Homo sapiens: one gene and its partners. The protein of the gene in region 3 interacts with the protein of the main gene of each other region in a pairwise test. Each region holds a gene or a part of one and is shown on either strand. Other genes may lie near its edges.

Evidence for each region.
Region 1: the proteins of TASOR2 (region 3) and TSEN15 interact in binary tests that used the Homo sapiens proteins (3 or more experiments, as listed by UniProt).
Region 2: the proteins of TASOR2 (region 3) and KLHL40 interact in binary tests that used the Homo sapiens proteins (3 or more experiments, as listed by UniProt).

Annotation. Positions count from the first base shown.
Region 1 is NC_000001.11:184,068,730-184,074,712, reverse strand, and holds the end of TSEN15 (tRNA-splicing endonuclease subunit Sen15), read right to left. Parts: intron 4,098-5,983; exon of another isoform or gene 3,981-4,097; intron 2,557-3,980; coding exon 2,415-2,556; coding exon of another isoform or gene 2,403-2,414; intron 1,887-2,402; coding exon 1,866-1,886; coding exon of another isoform or gene 1,850-1,865; 3' UTR 501-1,849; downstream 1-500. UniProt on the Homo sapiens protein: Non-catalytic subunit of the tRNA-splicing endonuclease complex, a complex responsible for identification and cleavage of the splice sites in pre-tRNA. It cleaves pre-tRNA at the 5' and 3' splice sites to release the intron.
Region 2 is NC_000003.12:42,680,733-42,688,536, reverse strand, and holds the start of KLHL40 (kelch-like protein 40), read right to left. Parts: upstream 3,001-7,804; 5' UTR 2,919-3,000; coding exon 1,767-2,918; intron 396-1,766; coding exon 235-395; intron 1-234. UniProt on the Homo sapiens protein: Substrate-specific adapter of a BCR (BTB-CUL3-RBX1) E3 ubiquitin ligase complex that acts as a key regulator of skeletal muscle development.
Region 3 is NC_000010.11:5,687,747-5,694,855, forward strand, and holds part of TASOR2 (protein TASOR 2), read left to right. Parts: intron 1-5,051; exon of another isoform or gene 5,052-5,167; coding exon of another isoform or gene 5,168-5,172; intron 5,173-7,109.

The DNA of each region.
Region 1 (5,983 bases), on a different chromosome or scaffold from region 3:
CTTGTTATTGTTGTTTCCTAATCAGCCATGAAACCCTAGTGTGTAGGCAGGACCTATGACCTGCTTCCAATCAACAGAATACGGCAAAGGTGATGGGATGTATGTGATTACATTATATAAGGATTATAAGGTCCATCTTGCTGAGACTCTCCTTTGCTGGCTTTGAGGAAGCAACCAGTTATATTGAGAAGGCCCACGTGGCAAAGAGCTGAGGGTGGCCTCCTGCCAATGGCATATAAGCATTGAGCACTCTCAAGAAATTGAAGGCTACTAATAACCATGTGGGTGAAAAAGCTGACCCTTCCCCAGTCAAGTCTCAGATGAGACTGGAGCCCTGCCCAACACCTTGACTGTAGCCTCATGGAGGACCCAACTAATCTGTGCCCGGGTCCCTTGCCCACAAAAACTATAAGATAATAAATGTGTGCTGTTTTAAGTTGCTACATTTGTGGTAATATTATTTTGCAATGATAGATAACTAATACAGATTTCAAGACACCTTTTAATTTTAAAACATTTTTATTATAAAATACAAATAAAAACATTGAGAAAAGACAAAGTCATCCATTTTCTGCCTCCTATCCCACTATAACCAGTTAGTAATTTGATTTACTTTGTTATCTTTTTATCATATGCTTGGTCTGTTATTTCAGCCATGATTACACCCACTTATACACTTTTCCGTCTTGCAATTTTTACTTAAGGTAATATTTTCATGTTTTTAATAATATTCATTACTAATTTTTAATAAGTACATTATGTATCATTTGTATATATCTGTTTATTGACTATTTCCTAGACCCAGGGATGACAAACTATGGCACCACATTTGTAAACAAAGTTTTACTGGAACAAAGCCACGCCCGTATTGTTTATGTATTGTCTATGGCTGCTTTTGTGCTTCATACAGCAGTGTTGACAAGTTATGACAGAGACAGTAGGTTTAAAAACCTAAAATAGTTACTTTCTGGCCCTTTATAGAAAAAGTTTGCCAATCTTTACCCCAAACTTTAAAGTGGTTTATAATTTGGGCTACTAAAAGTAATGTCACTTGGAACATCTTTGTGCATATAATTTTTTATACTTTGTACAATTTGAGAGACATTAACAAAAGTGGAATAACTGGGTCTAATTAATGAAGACATTTTTACGGTTGATTCTCTCCCACACTGTTGTAATATTCAAGCTATGATATGTGATAAGAATGAAAAGGATAGCCCAGAACTCTTGTAGGTAACATGTCTCTGGTCCCTGTTACTTAAGACACGTAAGTTACTTAAGACACACTCTGGATGAACATATTTTGAGTTTTGATTTAAAGTTAACCAAAAAAGAGAAATAACAGTAACTGCAATGGGAAGACCAATTGAAAGAAATCTTTTACTTTTTACTGGAGAGGAAAAAGTAAACAGAAGTGGGTGACAAGGTACATATAAAATGCCATTCTACGGTAGCTGCAGTGGCCAAAAGGCACTGGGGAGAGCTGAGTAAGAGAAAGAAATGGCAGTCTCAACAATGAGCTGGCAGTGGCAGCAAGAAACAAAGAGACAACTTTGAGTGTGGGATGACAAAAGCAGCACACAGGTCCCACCCATCTGAATACATCCTAGGCATAAACCTGTATATAACTGTAATTAAACTGTCTCTAGATAACAAAGTTTTAAAGAAATCACCCTATATTTTTTAAGAAGGAGAAAGTCTTCTACCTGGGGAAGTTTTACTCTTCAGAATGAAAACCTTATGGAATGGGGAAGTCAACCCTCACTATGTACGTCAACCCTATTTCTGAGATAAAAGATGAAGCAGTCTGATGGGTCTCAAATCCAATCTTGTATGAATAAAACAAGCATCAGGAAACATGGATGTCATCTTCTAAGAGAAATATTCTGGAAAAAAAAAAGATCAGGATGGACTTTTCTCCGATAAACAATGTAATCCAAAAGCAAAATTAGAAAGATATTTAATGTAATTATCCAAATTATACCAACAAAGTATGTAAAGAAATCACATATAGCACATTTATCTTATTAAAATGTTCCTGTCAAAATGTCAACCAATTTAACATTTCTTAAATAAGCGTTTTTTTACTTACAACTATTATTAGCCTTTACATTCCACCTCAGCTACTCACTAAATAATTAAATGCATGATGACTTCATAAAATACTTTGGAAAACCATGAAATTCTCCAAAGAGTAAGGAAATCAATTTTTTTTTTGCAAAAATAACTAGGAACATGCTACTTTGAACAAAATATAACCAATTTTCTGACGTCTGAAAATCAAGACTTTTTTTCTTGAATTTTCCCTATGGCAAAGGAAGTGGCAGTTCTGTGACTGACTTGAGTCACACTTAAAATCACGTCATAATTTTCCTCTTTTTGTACTTCTTGCTGTCAGTTACCTCAAAACTGACCTGAGGGTCTGGCAGCATAAATCCATCAGTAAGTTTATAATAGACTATTGTAGAATCAGACTCCACTATGGCCAAAGTAAAAGACATCGGCAAATCTGGATCACCTTGCAACTTTCGAGATGCCTTCAAGATCTCCCTTATCCTGAAAATAAAGTCACAATATACTTAGGAGTTGCGGTCACTCAATTAGATGAGATGTGACAGAAGAAAGCACTAGAAAACTTGAAAACAGGTCACAAGAAACCAAACTGAAGTAAAAAGAGAAAAAATAATTTTAAAAAATAACATCAGAGTCTTCTGGTATAGTATCAAATAAGTTCAACATTACACATAATTGGAATCACAGAAGGAAAGGAAAGAGAATGGTATAGAAATAGTTGACAGTTTTCCAAAATTGTTGTCTCTGAATCTGAAGTGTATCTTTTGTAGATAGCATATAGTTGGATCTTGTTTTTATATCCAATCTGACAATCTCTGCCCTTTTGAGTGTTTATTCAAATTTAAAATTAACATTGGTATGGTTGGATTCATGCCTGCCATTTAGCTATTTGTTTTCTATATATCACATGTCTTTTTACTTCCTCTCACCCTCCTTTATCACCTTCTTTTCTATTAAATAGGTATTTTCTAGTACACCATTTTAATTAATGTATTTTTTTTTACTATAGTTTCTTGAGTTTCGTAGTGATGACTCTAGAGATTACTATTGCGTCTTAGTTTATCACAATTTCTCTCAGCTTAATACTAACTTGATTCTAAAAAATATAGAAATTGCTCCAATAGAGCTTTATTCCTTTCCTCCACCTTTATGCTATTATTGTCATATATGTTTATATATTTAAACCCAGTAATATAGTGTTGTAATTATTACTTTAAATAATTTTCTTTTTATAAAGTTAAGAGGAGAAAGGAAAATATATTAGGGTCTTTTACATTCACATATTTAATATTCCTGGTATTCTTCATTTCTTCACATAACTGTCTGGTGTCATTGTTTACTCCAATATAGCTTCATTCCTTCCCCCATCCTTTGTGTTAATAACATCATATAAGTTACTTCTTAACGTGCTATAAGGCTGGTCAGTTGATTTTTGACAAAGGTACAAAGGCAATTCAATGGAGAAAGTCTTTTCAAGGATACTTGAAATGAAGATAGTAGTACACCTTTATGTTTACACATAAGATTATTATATGAATCAATTAAATGGCATATATGAAAAGACTTCATAAACTGTCAAGTGGTCATATTATGTAGTATATATACAACTTTGCTACCTTGCAAATTGGGATATAATATTTATAGATACCCCTGCCTCCATGATTATTGCTAAAACTGAATACTAACCCAAACATACTAAGGTACACTGTGCCATTAGTGGAAATACAGAAAATGTTTCTTTTCTGAAACAGTCTGAATCCCAGAAATTGACTTAGTCCTTAAAAAATTATTTCCACCTATGCTGAACTGCATTACAACTAGCTAGATTCTTATTCACAAGAATGATTTACTTTAGAGAAAGATATTCTGATAAAGCAACGATAGATATTAATCAGAAACTTCATTACTCAGCACTGATGGGAAGTCACACTGTGATAAAAGGCAGCATATCACAATTGCTTCTTCAATGCAAATCTTTTAATGTAGCTAAGTATTTTCCTTCTTCAAAAGTGGCACGCCAATATCTAAATTAATAATAATAGAAAAAGATACATTTTTATAGGCTGTCCATCTTGAATTAATTTTTTTCTACAAAGATGGCAAAGAAGAAACAGACAATGGATCAACTAAAATTTTAACTTATCTACATCTTTTGTTGTCAGCATGTATCATGATTACTTCACAGTATGCAATATACATAAAACCCAATATATAATGCACATAAAGCCACTTCAATGCCACAAGATAAATTTCTCTAAACATCCCTAACTGGTAGACTGTGATGAGAATGGGACACAGACAAGAAGGAAGCCTGTTAACACAACTTTAACACATTTTCCATTTCTGAAGATATAATGTTATTTAAATCAGAAGGTGTGTTTGTATGTGTGTGTTGGGGGGTGGTGTTCACTAAGGAAAACTATATGGGAATTGTAGCCCATATAGTGAAATTTAGAATAGAAATTTCCATCTTATTCACTACTCTTTTTCCATTCTCAATTTATATCTGTTTCCAGAGTTCTTTGATTTAAGCAGCAAAACATTTTCATACTTACCCCAAATACCCATGCAGGAAACCCTAACATTTGAAAACTAACTCAGAGTTGTAAAAGGGGTTTTGTTTTCAGAGTTGAGAGAAATCACTGTCAAAAATGAAATGGAAGTTCCCATTTCTGAGGCCTTGTTTATGGTATTTGGTTGGAGGGGGCGGTGATTGTGAATTACCAGTGAATCTTCTCACTAGTAACAGAATAAAATAGTTTATCTGCCTCTGTTACTCAAGGTACATTCCAGAAGTCTTACAGTTTCTTGTTCAGGATCTCTTCTAGTCGATTTTTCAAGTATGTTTAAAGCAAAGCCATCATCTTTTCCTCAACAAACAAGAACAAGACCTTTCTTGTTTGTTTCCATTATAGGATACTGCATAAAATCTTAAAAATGTTTATTTTGCCTTTTAGTCAACAGATTATATTTTCCCAATCTATTAATAATAGCAGTAACAAAAGATTCTTAAGTTCTTAAAAAACCACATATGATTGTAAAGATCCCAAGAACATTTAAGTATCACCAGAATACTATAATCTCACTTAATTTCTAACAAGCTTATGGTTTGAAATCTCACTTTAGAAATGACAGAATGTTTCCTTATATGTATAAATTTTAATAGCTCAGTTCTTTGGAAAAATATTGTGAAGATACTGGAAATATTGTATGTTTCATCACACAAATCTACAACAATAAACGATAAAATTCTTTATAGTTCATATTGGATAGAAATCAACCTATGAAAAATATAACCTATGTATTAATACTAACAGTTTCAAGTTTTAAACTCAGTTATATCTAAAGGGAAAAATCCCACCTAAAGAAAAATATGTATCAATAATAATAGCTATTTAATAACAGCAACAAAATTTGATGCTCACAACAGGTTTTTATTTCTCATAACTGTTCATAGAGGAGCTCTGTGTACTGAAAAAAAGTGATTCCAGAGCTTCATATAGCTAACTTGAAAACAAGCCTGAAGCAAATACACAGTTAACACTATTTGGCTAATACCTTTAGTCCAAGCTATTTAAATGCTTTCCATAAATCTTAGCATTGATTTTTCTGTAATGATTCTGAAACAGATACTAAGTAATCTCTGGAGATTTACACAGAGGACAAGAAGTTGAAGACCGCATTACTTTTAACTTCAAATGCTATTGAAATAGAATGTATCATGGGTTAAAAGTAGTATTAATTTCAACCCATAGAAAGTATCTCCTATCCTCTTCAATGTGGCCAAATAATATATGCTATAGCCTTATTAGTAAAAGGGAATAATTCCTTGATTTGCCTCATTATGATATAATGGAATGACATGCCATAATGCAACTCTGAAACATAATGCAAAATTAAGTTGGTGTCA
Region 2 (7,804 bases), on a different chromosome or scaffold from region 3:
CCGCCCATCCACCTAACACATATTCGAGATGCGTCAGATCCATTGCTGGAACTTCCGAGGCCTCTCAGTTCTTTGATCCCACCCTGCCCCCCAACCTCCCCGCCCTTACCCAAGCCCACCTTCACTCTAAGCACAAGGCTCTAGCTCCAAATCCCACCCCAGGCCCTAGACCAGCTGCGGCCTCCATGCCCCACTCACCCCCACGGAGCTCAGCCCCACCCCAGCCATGCTCACAGCCTGTCGTAGCACATGACCGAGTCCAGGCAGCGCTCGCCGTCCTTGATCTCTCTGCCACCGACCACGTAGATGGAGTTGAGAGCTTCTCCCAGGCCAAAGAGGCAGCGGGGCGAGGGCAGCGGTGGCATCCCCAGCCACTCTGAGTCCAGATGGTCAAACTGCAGGCCAGGTGTCCAGTCAGCTACCGCCCCCCACTCCCCCAGCCTCAGCCCAGCCCCACTCAGTCCCACTGCCCCAGATCACGGAGGAGGTCGGGAACCCAGGTAGGGCCAATACAGCCTGGAGGTGCCCTGAGAAACAGTGCCCCTCCTACCATCAGGCTGAGAGCAGATGAGCGTCCCCCACACCCAGGCAGGCTCCTGGCAACCACCATTATAGCAGGCGGTAGGGCACCACAGCACAGAAATGAGGGGGAGCTCTGTGAGGGAGGTCCAGCTATGGCCTTGCTTTCCCAGGCTGAACAACTCCCAACTGAGGCCTGCCTGCCCCCTCCTCTCCACCCCATCCCACTGTTCAGGAAACTTCCAAATACGGCCCTGCCTTTTCGCCCTGTAAAATCTACAGTCCACAGCCTTGTCCACCTCCACAGCTTTATAATTAAGATATTAATACTAGGGGTTCATCTTTTTGGAAAGTTTTCTGAGGGCTGAGCACCTTGCTGATGAGCACTTTATAAGCATCATTTAACCTTCCAACAACCTTATCATGCAGGAAGGAGAATATCCCCAGTTACAAACAGAGGCCCAGAGAGAATAAACAATGTGCCCACACTGCTGAGCTAGTAGCTGGTGAAGCTGCCCTCATCCCCCAGTGCAACCGTAAGGCCTGTGAGCTTAACCCTGGCACCAAGCGCCTGTCACCCCTCTTGCTGATCAGGCCTCCCTGAGCACACCACTCACCAGGCTCAGCCCCAGTTCTATCCCTTGCTTACCGTTCCTTGGCCGGAAACACTGCCATCTTCCCCTTCACATCTCCAAATCCCACCCCACTGGCAAGGCTCAAACTTATATGGCCAGTCTCCAGGAAACTGTCTCTGCCCTTTGAGATCTCACAGTCACACCCCAACTCAGACCTGGCACTCCACTCTGCTGATACCTCCTGGGCCTCAGTTTCCTCATCTGTACAATGGGAGGACCATACAGGATTGTTCCTTTGTCTGGGACACTGCTGTGAGCTCCGGGCCTGGCCTTCACGCAGAGGCCCTGCCCAGGATCCTCACACCGACCTTGCTGCTCCTTACTGTGCCCCACCCCAACCCCTGTGCAGGGCCAGGGCCTCCAACATATGCCAACTTGGGGCTACCACACCCCTGAAATTAAGATACCAAAGTTATGCTGCTTTTTGGCAGCTGCCTATTGACTGTCTTCAACCTTCAAGTAGGTGGCTATCAGTCAACCTCCCCAGTCTACATCTCACCCTAGACCCAGTGGCATTCACTTGTGTAGACACAAGCCCCTTCTGGGCCCCAAGACTGTCCACAGTGCCTAGAGCCCAGCATTAGCTGGCGGCTCCCAAGGCTGGTCAGGCACCTGCAGGAAGTATGCGCTCATGGGGTCCTCTTTGTTGTCTTCGTTGTAGAAGAGGCCTCCAGCCACGAAGACCTGGTTCTCCTTGGTAACCAGGCTGACGTGGTTCTTGGGGACCTGGTTGGAGAGGGAAGCACAGTAGCACTCGTTGGCTGCTGGATCGTAGGCCACAGCGCCCTCCTCACTGATCATGAAGATGAGATCCTGCAGGAACATGCCGAAGCGCAGGGTGTCATTGAGGATCCCAGGAAGGATACGTTCGGCCTCCTCATCCTCCTCTGCTTTGGCTTTGCTTGTGCCCTTATCAGCCTCCTTGGCCCCGGCTCCATCCTTCCCCTTCTTTTTCTTCCGCAGCGTGGTGATGCGGCCCTCGTGTGCATCCTTCACCATCTGCACCTTGCGCAGCAACTCGGGCTGGGCACGCACGAGAGGGTGGCGCTCCACGCGGCTTTCCAGAAAGGCGCGCGGCAGCAAGCGGCAGCGCACGCTCTCGAAGACGGTGGGCAGCGCGCGCTGGCGCTCAGCCTGCGCCTCGGCGTCGCCGCTACCCGCCCACCGCATCACCGCCTCGAACACTGCCTCCTCCTTCTCCACGTTAAGGCCGTCGCTGGAGATGATGGCGATGAGCTCGTCGGCCGAGAGTCCGAGGAAGTCAGCGTCGCGCGCCACCAGCGTGAAGTGAGCGCAGATGAAGTCGCGGGCAGCCACGGCGAGACGCGCGCAGTCGAGCAGGAGGCCGAGACGGAAGACGGCCAAGCAGTTGGAGAGGCACAGGCGCTTCTGCAGGAAGGACACGCAGATGGTGAAGATGGAAGGGATCTGGAAGCGGTGTGCCGCGGCGAACAAATCCTGCACGCTCGCCTCATCCAGCGCGATCTCTGATGTGTACAGGTAGTGCAGCACCTGGGCCACCACGTCCGGGGACACCTCCTCCAGGTGCAGCTCGCCCGCGCGCTCCGGCTCGGCTAGAAAGCGCGCCCGGAAGTAGGGGCTGCAGGCGGCCAGCACCAGGCGATGGCACGGGAACTCGCGCTCGCCCGCCCGCACCACACAGTCGAGGAACTTGCCATGGTCCAGCATGTCTTTGAGCCCGTCTTGCAGGAGCGTCTGCTGGTACAACCGCTGCTCCTCCGCCTGCTCCAAGCCCAGCGCCATGGTGGGTGGCCTAGGGTGCGGTGGCGGTGCCAAGGGGGCTCCTCTCTGTACCCCTGCTTTCCTGCTGGGGTTTGCTTAGACTGAGCAGCTGTCTTCGAGGGGCTATATATAGAGGTGGCCGGGTCCCTGTAAGGCGAGCCGCCTGGCCTCCTGCACATGACGCACAGGGGACAGCTGGGCAGAGGCCCCCTCCCAGAGAAAGACTTGACTCAGCCCCGGGGGCTTATGGGACGGGGGTGGGGTGTCTGGGCCCTTCTGAAAGATGAGGGCCTGGCTGCCTCATTTCTAAATGGAGCACGGAGAGGTCTTGACTCTGGATTCTTTGGTCAGGAGATGCCCCTAGGGGAGAAGGTGGCCTAAGCTCTGACCCTCAGTCCAGAGACGGGAAAGCACTGGAGCCTCTCTTCCAGGGTCTCCCTTCCTTCATGCTTTCTGGGAACTTCTGTCCTGGTGCCTCCATCTTCCCCCCCGGAATATGTCTCACTCCAGCTACCCCTGGATACAGGGTGCTTGGGTTTTCTGGTCAGAAGTTGGACATGGTGTTCACTTTTTGGCGGCCCTGTTGCCCTGCCTTTATTTTAAGAGGCAGGGTCTCACTATGTTGTCCAGCCTGGACTTGAACTCCTGGGATCAAGCCATTCTTCTGCCTCAGCCTCCCTCGTAGCTGAGATTACAGACATAAGACACCACCCCCGTTGCCTCACCTTTAAAATGGGAAGAGCTTTTCCTCTTTCTGTCCCTCCTCCTTGCAAGAAAGCAAGAAGGTACCTTAGGTAAACAAGGTTGCCACTTTCCTATGAGGCCTGGGGCAGGGCATGTCGCTCTGTTAAGCCACAGTTTCCCTTCCTACACAATGAGGAGGTGGCAAAGTTAGATGCTAAGGACCTCAGTTCAACTCTGCTGGAAGTTTAGAAGCACCAAGGTACTGTGTCCTGGGAGTACACTATTAGTTTTAACACTTCTAAGGTGTCAGATGTGCTAGCAAATTAATTTCTTAGGATTCTACTATTCTAGGTTTTTAAACCCCCGGGGTTTTAACATTCTAGGGAGTGACATTCTGAATTCTAGTGTTCAAAAAGTAACACTACAAGTTTAATATTTCAGGACTTTAGCTATCTATACTCACTATTCTTGGTGCATATTAGGCCAGACCTGAGACTGCCTGGCCATGGGGCCCCTGCACCTTGTCTATGGTCTGAGGGACCAGGGTTGAAGCCCAGGACAGCCAGTCTTGATGCCTACCTTGTTCTAGACTACTGACACCCCTCCCCACACCCTCCCCACCCCGCCCCACCACCAGACACACACACACACACACACACACACACATCAGCCTCAGTCACCAAGATTAACTTGTTCCCAAAGTGCCAGAGGCTGCAGCTGTGTGTTAAATTTAGCCCCCAGGACATTGGAATGAACTATTATGAGACACACCCCCATCATTCCTCTGAGTCACTTGTTTATAACGTCAGGCGGGGGAGTGGGGGAGGGGGTGGGTATAGGAGAGATGACAGCAGGCTGGGCTAGGACTGAGTCACCTCCCTTTTGTGATCTCAGCAATATCACTCTCTGTCCCTTTTGTTTTTAGACGGAGTTTCGCTCTTGTTGCTCAGGCTGGAGTGCAATGGCGCAATCTCAGCTCACTGCAACCTCCGCCTCCAGGGTTCAAGCAATTCTCCTGCCTAAGCCTTCCTAGTAGCTAGGATTACAGGCGCTGACCACCACTCCCGGCTAATTTTTTTTTTTTTTTTTTTTTTTTGGATTTTTAGTAGAGACGAGGTTTCACCATGTTGGCCAGGCTGGTCTTAAACTTCCGACCTCAGGTGATCCGCCCGCCTCGGCCTCCCAAAGTGCTGGGATTACAGGCGTGAGCCACCGCGCCTGGCCTCTGTCCCTTTTAAATGGTGCATCTGATCATCACTTGCTCACCCCACCAGCAGGTCCCAGAGGGACACAGCACCTGAGCAAGCTCTGGAGGTGGTCCTGTCCCTCTTGCTGAAAAGGCAAGGGCTCACTCAGGGAGGGCAGGTGGTGAGCTTCCAGCCCAGCCCTGGACTGCAGGGCATTGCTAGCAAGCACAGCCAGTGAGGAGACGAGGCTTGAGAGGCTAGGCACCTTGGCCAAGTCACACAGCGGACATGGGCTGCGCCAGGATTTGAAGCAGATCTGCCCTCTTACAAAGACTGTGGGAACCCTTCCCTACCTTGCTGCCTCTCGTGAATTAACAAAAACGTTCATCAATCGTAGTCTCATTTTCAAAGACCAGGCCAGAAGATACTGACTGAACAATTTACTTAGATTTATCAAATGACTTAATGAAATATTTTTAGATTATGATGGATCCCATAGTGCTCACTGCCTACCAGGCATTCAAGTAGAACATGTGTATGTGGCTCATTCATTCATCAAGAACCTGTGCACTGCTTTAAATGCTGAAGAGTCAGCAGTGAGCAAATCAGGCAGGAATTCCGGTCTTCATGGAGCTTACATTCGTCAGGAGGTCGGGGCAAGGTTGGTAGGGGAGACAGAAATAAATAAATAGTTATACGGGGCATCAGATGATGGTTATGGCTGTGGAGACAAGTGAAACGGAAGGCGCATGGGAAGTGGGAGGAGGAGGTGGTAACGATTTTAAATGGAGTAGTCAGGATGGACTCACCGAGAGGATCACATTTGAGAGGGGTCAAACCGTGGAGGATTCCCAGTGGGGGAACAGCTGGAGCAAAGGTCCTGAGGCAAGAGAGTGCCTGGCACGTTCCCAAAACAGCACGGAGGCCAATAGGGCTGGAGCAGTGAACGAGGAGGTGAGTAGGAGGAGGTAAGGGGAGAGGTTAGGGTAGGGGATCATGCTGACCCCCGTGGGCCAGCATCAGGACTTGGGTTTTCCTCTGAGTTGAAACCGGGAAACACTGTGTTTTATTTTTTATTTTTATTTTTTTGAGGCAGGGTCTCGCTCTGTTGCCCAGCCTGGAGTGCAGTGGTGTGATCACAATTCACTGCAGCCTGGATCTCCTGGGCTCAAATGATCCTTCTACCTCAGTCTCCTGAGTGGCTGGGACTACAGGCACCTACCACCACACCCAGCTAATTTTTAAAATTTTTGTGGAGATGGAATCTCACTATTTTGCCCAGCCTGGTCTCAAACTCCGGGCCTTAAATGATCCTCCCACCTTGGCCTCCCAAAGTGTTGGGATTACAAGTGTGAGCCACCATGCCCAGCCTCACTGTTTATTTTTAAATTATTATTGTGGAAAATACAAATACATACAAAAGTAGAGAGGATCATATTCTGACCTCTCATGTACCCATCTCCCCACTTCAGTAACTGTCAAGTCTTCAAGTCACGGCCAACCCTGTTTCATCTCTATCTCCACCCACTCTAATCAACCCAGAGGTTGCATGTGGGTGTAGAAAAAGAGGGGAGAAAGGGTGACTCCAAGACTTTTAGTGGAATCCAAGGGAAGATGTCATCTCATTTCATCCTTTTAATTTTTACTCATTTAATCTTCACACCAAAATTATAAGGTAGGTATTATTTTTCCCATTTTACAGAAATTGAAATTTAGATGGCCAGCAAATAGGAAGCAGTCTAATATTTTGAAAATAACTTTAATGAGGCATAAGTGGCATGTGATAAACTGCACATATTTAAAGTGTACAATTGGATAAGTTTTGACATATGTATACACATCCGTGAAACCACCACCACCACAATCAAGACAGGGAGCACATCTGTCACCCACGAACTATTCCTCATCCCCTTTTAAAATCTCTCCTCCATCTCTTCCCACACACCCCAGCCCAATCACTGATCTGCTTTCTGTCACTATAATTCATTTGCATTTCCTAAAGTTTTATGTAAGAGGAATCATACAGTATGTACTTTTTTTGTCTGACATCGTTCACTTAGTATAATTATTTTAAGCTTCATCCAGGTTGTCTACTCATATTTTTAACTGATAGCTTCTGCCTTCATTAGGAATCTTAGTATATCACAGGGTCATTTAAGAGAAACACAAAATGGGGCCGGGCGCAGTGGCTCACGCCTGTAATCCTAACACTTTGGGAGGCCAGGGCAGTGGGTGGATCACCTGAGGTCAGGAGTTCGAGACCAGCCTGATCAATATGGTGAAACCCCGTGCCTACTAAAATACAAAAATTAGCTGGGTATGGTGGCGTGTGCCTATAGTCCCAGCTACTCGGGAGGCTGAGACAGGAGAATTGCTTGAACTCAGGATATTTGGGTGGCAGATATTTGTCACACTTGGTGGCCTTCCTGCATCTCCTAAATAGTCTTCCTATGTTTTGGACAGTTCCCACATAAGTAGTCCTTCTTCCCTGTGGTAGAAACCAGAATTTATTTTCCCAGCTTCCCCAGGAACACAGACATGCCACTGAGCTCAACCCATTGTATGCGCCCATCCCAAAACTTCAGTTTGGAACAGGAAGCAGGAACCTGCAGCATCCATATTTTGGCGAAGGGCTGATGGACAGCAGTGTTGGAACTTCTGGAGTCTACTTTCCACTGTCCACCATACAAGCTGAGGGATCTGTCCCTACTGGCTGTGGTTTGGCCATTGTCTGGGCTATGTATCCTGCAATCCTGACTCGAGCATTCCTGAAGTTTCTGTAATCTGTCTGATACCACACTAGCCAGTGAAGATTCTGTGATCTACTGCTAAGAGGGCTGTGTGATGTTGAAAATCATTTCAGGAGTATACCAGCAACAGGTGCTCAAGGGTGAGCTTGAGAAGTCGAGAGAATTTCTAATGGCCTGCTTGCTTCTTCACTGACTTCTGGGTTAAAGGTGGCCTATGATGCAAGAAGTTGAGATGCTGGAAATGCTCTTACATTACATAAAAGGATCCAAAAACAGGCAGCCCAGA
Region 3 (7,109 bases):
GAGACAGGTTGCAGTGAGCCAAGGTTGTGTCACTCTACGGCAGCCTGGGTGACAGAGTGAGACTCCGTCTCAAAAGACTGCTGAAGATCCCAAAGATCTTTTGTTTATTGGATTATATCAATTGATAATTACCGTATTAGATATTAAAACTGATAAATTTGAAATGTATGTTTATTTATTGGTACCTTTAAATATAATAACCCATTACATCTTAACATATTTTATCTCCCCAAAATTAGTGACAAGAATGGGATTTTTGTACATTTTTGCAAATACGCTGAAGGTCTCCTTTAATGACTAGAGTCTCATCTGCTTTTGTATTCATTGTGTTGCCATGTATTATTTTGGTTGAAGTGCATGAAGAAAATCCAGCGTCATTCAGCTGAGTAGTTAGAAAAGAGATGAATATTTTAATAATCTTTTCAGATGATTATGTTCTTTTTTGATACTCATCAAAACCTAACAGTTTTGTGTTTTTGTTTCTGTTTTGTTTTTTAGGACAGTGTCTTGCTCTGTCGCCCAGGCTAGAGTGCAGTGATGTGATCATAGCTCACTACAGCCTCCAACTCCTGGGTTCAAACAATCCTGCCTCAGCCTCCTGAGTAACTAGGGCTACAGGCACACACCACCAGGCCCAGCTAATTTTTAATTTTTTTTTTTTTTTTTTTTTTTTTGTAGAGACAGTATTGCTATGTTGCCCAAGCTAGTCTCGAACTGCTGGCCTCTAGCAGTCCCCCTGCCTCGCCTCTCAAAGCACTGGGACTATAACATCCAGCCCCTAACAATTTGTTAAACGTTAGCTGCAGTGTAGAATTGCAAATCATATGAATGAACTTCTCATGCTCTGACATTAACATTGGCCTACCATGCACTTTCAAGGGCTCTTTTACCTACACATGTGTCATTTGGAAAACATTGGTTCACTGAATTGTGCAGCTCTTTCACATGACACATTTCATTATATAATTTCAGAAAATTGGTTGGGTGCGTGGGCTCATGCGTGTGATGCTAGCACTTTGGGAAGTTGAGCTGGGAGGATTGCTTCAGCCAGGTTTGAGACCAGCCTGGGCAACATAGTGAGACCCCATCTTTACAAAAAAAAAAAAATTAGTGGAGCGTGGTAGCACACACCTGTGTTCCCAGCTACTTGGGAGGCTGAGGTGGGAGGATTGCTTGAGCCCAGAAGGTTGATATTGCAGTGAGCCATCATCATGCCACTGCACACCTTCCTGGGTGACAGAGCAAGACCCTGTCTCCTTTAAAAAGTACAGTTTTTGGAATGGCTTTTATTGAAGATCTATTGATGATGAACACTCAGTTTTTGTTCACCTGAAAATGTCTTTATTTTGCAGCCATTCTTGAATGATGTTTTTGCTGAATACAAAAGTTGGCAATTGTTTTCTTTTAACATGCTGAAGCTCTTATTCCTCTGTCTTTTGGCTTTCATTATTGCTATTGAAAAGTCACCTATCAGTCTATCAATTCATTTTGTTCTGACTGTTTTTTGTGGGTTCTTTTGTTGTTTGTTTTGATCTTTAGCTTTTTGCTGCTTTGCTGTTAACTTGTATGTATTGGCCGGGTGCGGTGGCTCACGCCTGTAATCCCAGCACTTTGGGTGGCCGAGGTGGGCGGATCAAGAGGTCAGGAGTTCAAGACCAGCCTGACCAATATGGTGAAACTCTGTCTCTACTAAAAATACAAAAATTATCCCGGCATGGGGGTGCGCGCCTGTAGTCCCAGCTACTCGGGAGGCTGAGGCAGAAGAATTGCTTGAACTCGGGAGGCAGAGGTTGCAGTGAGCAGAGATCACGCCACTGCACTCCAGCCTGGGCGACAGAGCAAGACTCCATCTCAAAAAAACAAAAAAACAAGCATGTATGTATCTTGCTTGGGATTGTCTTCTTAAATCTGTAAATTGGAGATGTTTTTAAATGTGTTTATTCATAATTTATTAAATGTGATTTCCATTCGTGTTATTTATCTTAATGTATAAATAATTTTTTAAATTATCTACATAGTAAATATTCTCTTCTGGTCTTTTACTCTTCTTTCACTTTGTTTCCCACAGCTTCCCCAACAGACATACATTGCCAAACTTGTGGATTTTTGATAATTTTTGATAAGTTAAAAGTAAAACAGGAAATCTCTGGAACTAGTCTTTTGGAAGAGGGGGTAGAGTTTTTGACTACTCTTTTCATTTTCTTCATCATTATTGGTTTATTTAAATGTTTCTTCCATTTAGACCAATGTTGGTAAATTATATTTTTATAGTTTTCAGATTTATTGATATAAATTATACATGGTGATTTATAATTTTAGAAATATCTTCCTTGTATTTGTGGTTGTATCGTCTTTGCTTTCAATATTTAATTTTTTCCTTTTTACTTATTTATATTTGCTAAAAGATTACCTACTTTATTATTACTCTACAAATAACCAGCTTTTGCTTTTATTGCTTGGCTTAGTTGGCTTTTTTAATTTGCTTTTTAAAATTACTGTTTTTATCATAAGAAATGTATCTGGAGTGTACTTTGTTTTCTCTTAGTAAGATTTTAATTACATTTAATCGGAGAACTAAATCCCTTGCTAATATTTTGTATAAAGATTCACTACCCTCCTTGGCATGGTGAAATAGACCCTGTTTAGAACCTTTCATGTACACCTGCTCCCTCATTAGGAGAAGGAATATTCAAGATCCCAATGCCTGAGGTTTGTCCAGTTGGGGCACCTACTTTACCCTTGTGCATATCCCCTATTTATCTGTGCCCAGGACATTTTGCGTGGGCTACGTGTAGAGGTGGTGGCCATACATAGTTATCTTTATTCTGGCATAAATCAGATGTCACGTTCTCTTTTGCCATATGTAATAATCAAGAGTACCCAAAAGTGGGTCTTGAAATATAATTGTTTCTGAGAGGAACTTATTCTCAGGATATTTTTGTAAGAGGGACAAAACTACTTAACAGTGTGTATCCTTGCAATAAGTATATTAATGAATACGATACAACCATTTTATACAGGCAAAAGATGGTTTAATGCCAAAGCACAAACTCATAAACCCAGTTGATGAGGAGCCAGAACAATGGTCATTACTGTATAGAGATGTTTTAAAAAGTCACCATATAAGCTTTGAAATAATTCTAATGAAAATTATATGACCTTGAGGCTGGGCGCGGTGGCTCATGCCTGTAATCCCAGCACTTTGGGAGGCCGAGGTGGGTGGATCACAAGGTCAGGAGATCGAGACCATCCTGGCCAACATGGTGAAACCCTGTCACTACTAAAATACAAAAAATTAGCCGGGCATGATGGTGCATGCCTGTAGTCCCAGCTTCTTGGGAGGCTGAGGTGGGGGAATCGCTTGAACCTGGGAGGCAGAGATTGCAGCGAGCCGAGATCACGCCACTGCACTCCAGCCTGACGACAGAGTGAGACTCCGTCTCAAAAAAAAAAAAAAAGAAAGTTATATGATCTTGAATATAAAAAGTATGGTCTCTAAAGAATTTGTTGTTGTTTTTACATAATGTAGGAGGAAAAAAATTGTGGTGTTTATAAGCATCAGCCTGATTACCAAAAATACTTTTTGTGGTAGACTGGATTTTGAGAATGTTAAAACAATCTTCAAAAATTGAATATTAAATCCAAAAATAAGCAAGCCACAGCTAAATGAAAAAGTCATAGTACATAGGTGTAATACACTTTACTCAAGGGGTGTAATTCCAAAAAAAAAGTTTTTAAAAAAGGTAATTTGTCTCCTACTGGATATACTAAATACCTTAGTGAATTTTTTATTTTGAATAGCTCTTTGTTAATCTACATAATTGTTTATGAATTTAACTTGCTTTATAAGTTCAAATTATCCTATATGCTATACAACACACTAATGGTAATGATGAATAAGATCTACTAATTAGGCTTTCTTCTGGGCAATGCATGTGGGTATCTTAGATTGCTTAGTTAAAACATAATGAGTAAAGATGTCCTTAGATCAGGCCAAACACTTCATCTTCCCCCTGCACCTCCGTTTGATTAAATTTTTCGTAAATTTTGTTAGGGCTGCATGGCTTATTGGGAAGGGACCTCATCCCTACCCCAGGCATTGGTATCAATTTTCCTGAAGCTATGTGAAGTATTAAAAAACCATATTCAGGCCTGGCATGTTGGCTCACGCCTGTAATCTGAGCATTTAGAGAGACAGAGGCGGGCTGATCAGTTGAGGTCAGGAGTTTGAGACCAGCCAGGTTAACACGGTGAAACGCCTTTACTAAAAATACAAAAATTAGCTAGGCGTGGCGGCCCATACCTGTAATTCCAGCTACTCAGAAGGCTGAGGCAGGGGAATCGCTTGAAACCAGGAGGCAGAGGTTGCAGTGAGCCCAGATTGTGCCACTGCACTCTGTCTCAAAAAAAAAAAAAAAGCCATATTCATTATGACTTTTTAATTTTGTGACATGTATAAATACATTTTTTATTATCTACATAGTAAATTTAAAAAGCTGCATCAAACTGTAGCCGGTGAGGCTGCATAAATGATGTGGGACGAAGAGTTATAATAACTTGAGATCACTGTAGTGAAAAGAACGTGTATTTTAGATTAGACCTGAGATTGATAGATATCCTTACTAGGGGCTTGCGGGTAGGACACTTAAGGAAATTGGAGCTTGGAGTGAGCTTTGTAAAATAATACTAAAACCATCCTCCTAGTGGGGTTACTGTGTGACGTCCAAGAACTCGGGGGCAGTTGGCTTGCTGTCCTGTGCTCCGTTCTGACGACTGAGCCCGCCCAGGTCTGCAGGGTCCTGGGGTCCTGCGGGTTCTGTAGGGTTCCCTGGTGTGTGGAGTCCCTACCCGCTACAAGCTCCGTTGGGTCTACGGAGTGTGCGGGGATCTCCCAGCCCTGTTGGCTGTACGGGCTCAGTGGGGTTTGCAGGGATCCCCTCGTTCTGTGGGGTCCGTGGGCGCCGAGTCAGGGCCATGCCCCTGGGCTCCGCTCGCGGAGCCGGCGTCGCCCTTGTTGACTTTCAAAAGGCGCCGCCGGCCCCGCGCCCTACACGCTCAGCACGCCCTGCGCGGAGTTCCCCGCTCTGGCGCACTGGCCTTGGCTGGCGGGAGGGGGCCGGAGGGGCTGCCGGCGGAGCAGAGACACAGCCACCCTCCCCAACACACCATGAGGTGAGTCGGGGAGGGGCCTAGGTCTCCCACATGCTGTTGTGGGAAGCTCTGACCCCCGCTGTGCCTGGGGCGGGCTCACCCACGGAGGTGACTGTTAATACAGCGCTGAGTGCGAAGGAGACCCGAGAAAATGGGCCTATTCTGTCTAGTAACGTTTTACCTTCTGGTGAGGGTGTGGGGAGAGAAGCTTTGGCAGGGTCAGTGAGGCCCCGCAGCAGAGCCCTGGTGATGAAAGACACTTTTGTATGGTACCCGAAGGCTTAACTTCACTCCTGATTGTGAGTGGATTGTGTGTGGTAGTGGTGGAGCCCTTGCAGAACCGCCAGAGAGACGGTGCTAGTTGTGTGTGTGCCTATGTAAACCTACAATAGCTAAGGTCATCTTTTGAAATGTAGAACAGGGATTGCACATTGACTTTGCGCTTCAAGTATTTGCAGGTTATTACCTTAGTTTTTACTCCCTTTGTGCGTGCCGTGATTATCTTGGTTTAAACTCGTATGTGGCAAGAAATTTTTTAATGAATGTTTAAGTTTCTGTGAAAATTGTGTATTTCTCAAATTGTATTTTTTGGCTTTTAATAGGGTCACTTTGTTTTCTGGGTCTCTGTTTTGACTTACGGGAAATGCTATTTGTTTTCTCTACATTTTCTTCATTTAAAAAAAACCTGTAACTTCAGGAGTTCAAGACCAACCTGGGCAACCTCATCCCTGGAGGAGGGGGGAACCCCCACAAAACCACAACTATAACTGGCTGCTACTTAGGACTACAGGAGATCTTTTTTCCAAAGTGGAAATAGCTTTATTTCACCCAGATTATGTTTATTTAAAATTTCAGATAATATATAAAGCTGTAAAAAGTAAAGCAAAAACTACCTGTACTTGTCCCATCCAAAGATAACTTCATAGAATATTTGATTATCTACTGTGGTGCTAGGAGCTCTGTTGGACCCTGGGGACTTTGGTGAACAGACAATGCCTGCCTCTATAAACCTTACATTCTGCTGGGGAAAATAGACCTCTCCCAACCCACCAAAAAGTAAATTTATAATAATTCCATGTTCTAATGCTTTAAAGAAAACACTTGCAGCAGGGTAATCCGAGGTTTATCTGAGTGGATGACTTAAATAGATGTCACTAAAGGAACAGAAAGAGCTCAACCATGGGAGGAATGGGGAGAAAAAAAAAAGAATTCTGGTCAGAAATAACAGCATGCACAAAGGCCTTAAAAGAGGAAAAAGCTATAAAAAGAAAAATCCATGTAGCTGCCACTCAGTAGTAAGTCAGGGAAAAGTAGAGCAAGATGAGGTATAGGAAATTGGCAGGGACCAAATTTTACTTGTCCATGGCCAGGAGGGTGTGTTTTGTGTTCTGAGGGCAGTGAGAGGGTACTGAGGGGCTTTAATTAGAAATAAAGTGATCTGGAAAACTAATTGATTAATTTGTTAAGTAAATATTTATTGAAACCCTACTGTATAACAGGCACTGTTCTGAGCACTGGCATACAACAATGAAAAGGACAAAGCCCTGTATTCATGAAACTAATCTAGTGGTTGGAGGACAATCAGATAAACAAGAAAAAATACCAGATATTGATAAGTGTGCAGAAGATGACCATTGTTTAAATTGTGGTTTATATTCTTTAAGATATGGTATATTACACATATACTTCTTTTGGAACTTTCTCCTGAATAATTTATGGTAGGACATTTTTCACTGTTACTAAATAGTTTTCTTTGGGGGCATCTTAATTTGTTTTTGGATTAAGTATGGTAAAAAATAGCATGCATAAATGAAGAAATACTGTGCAGCAACAAAAATTTGCATGTTACAAAGCATCTGGTGAACGTTATATAGTAACTTCCTTTTGACAGTCTGACATGTGGCTCTCCTACCCCCATCCCAGACCCCAGCTGCCCCTTTGTGGTTTTTTATTTTGAC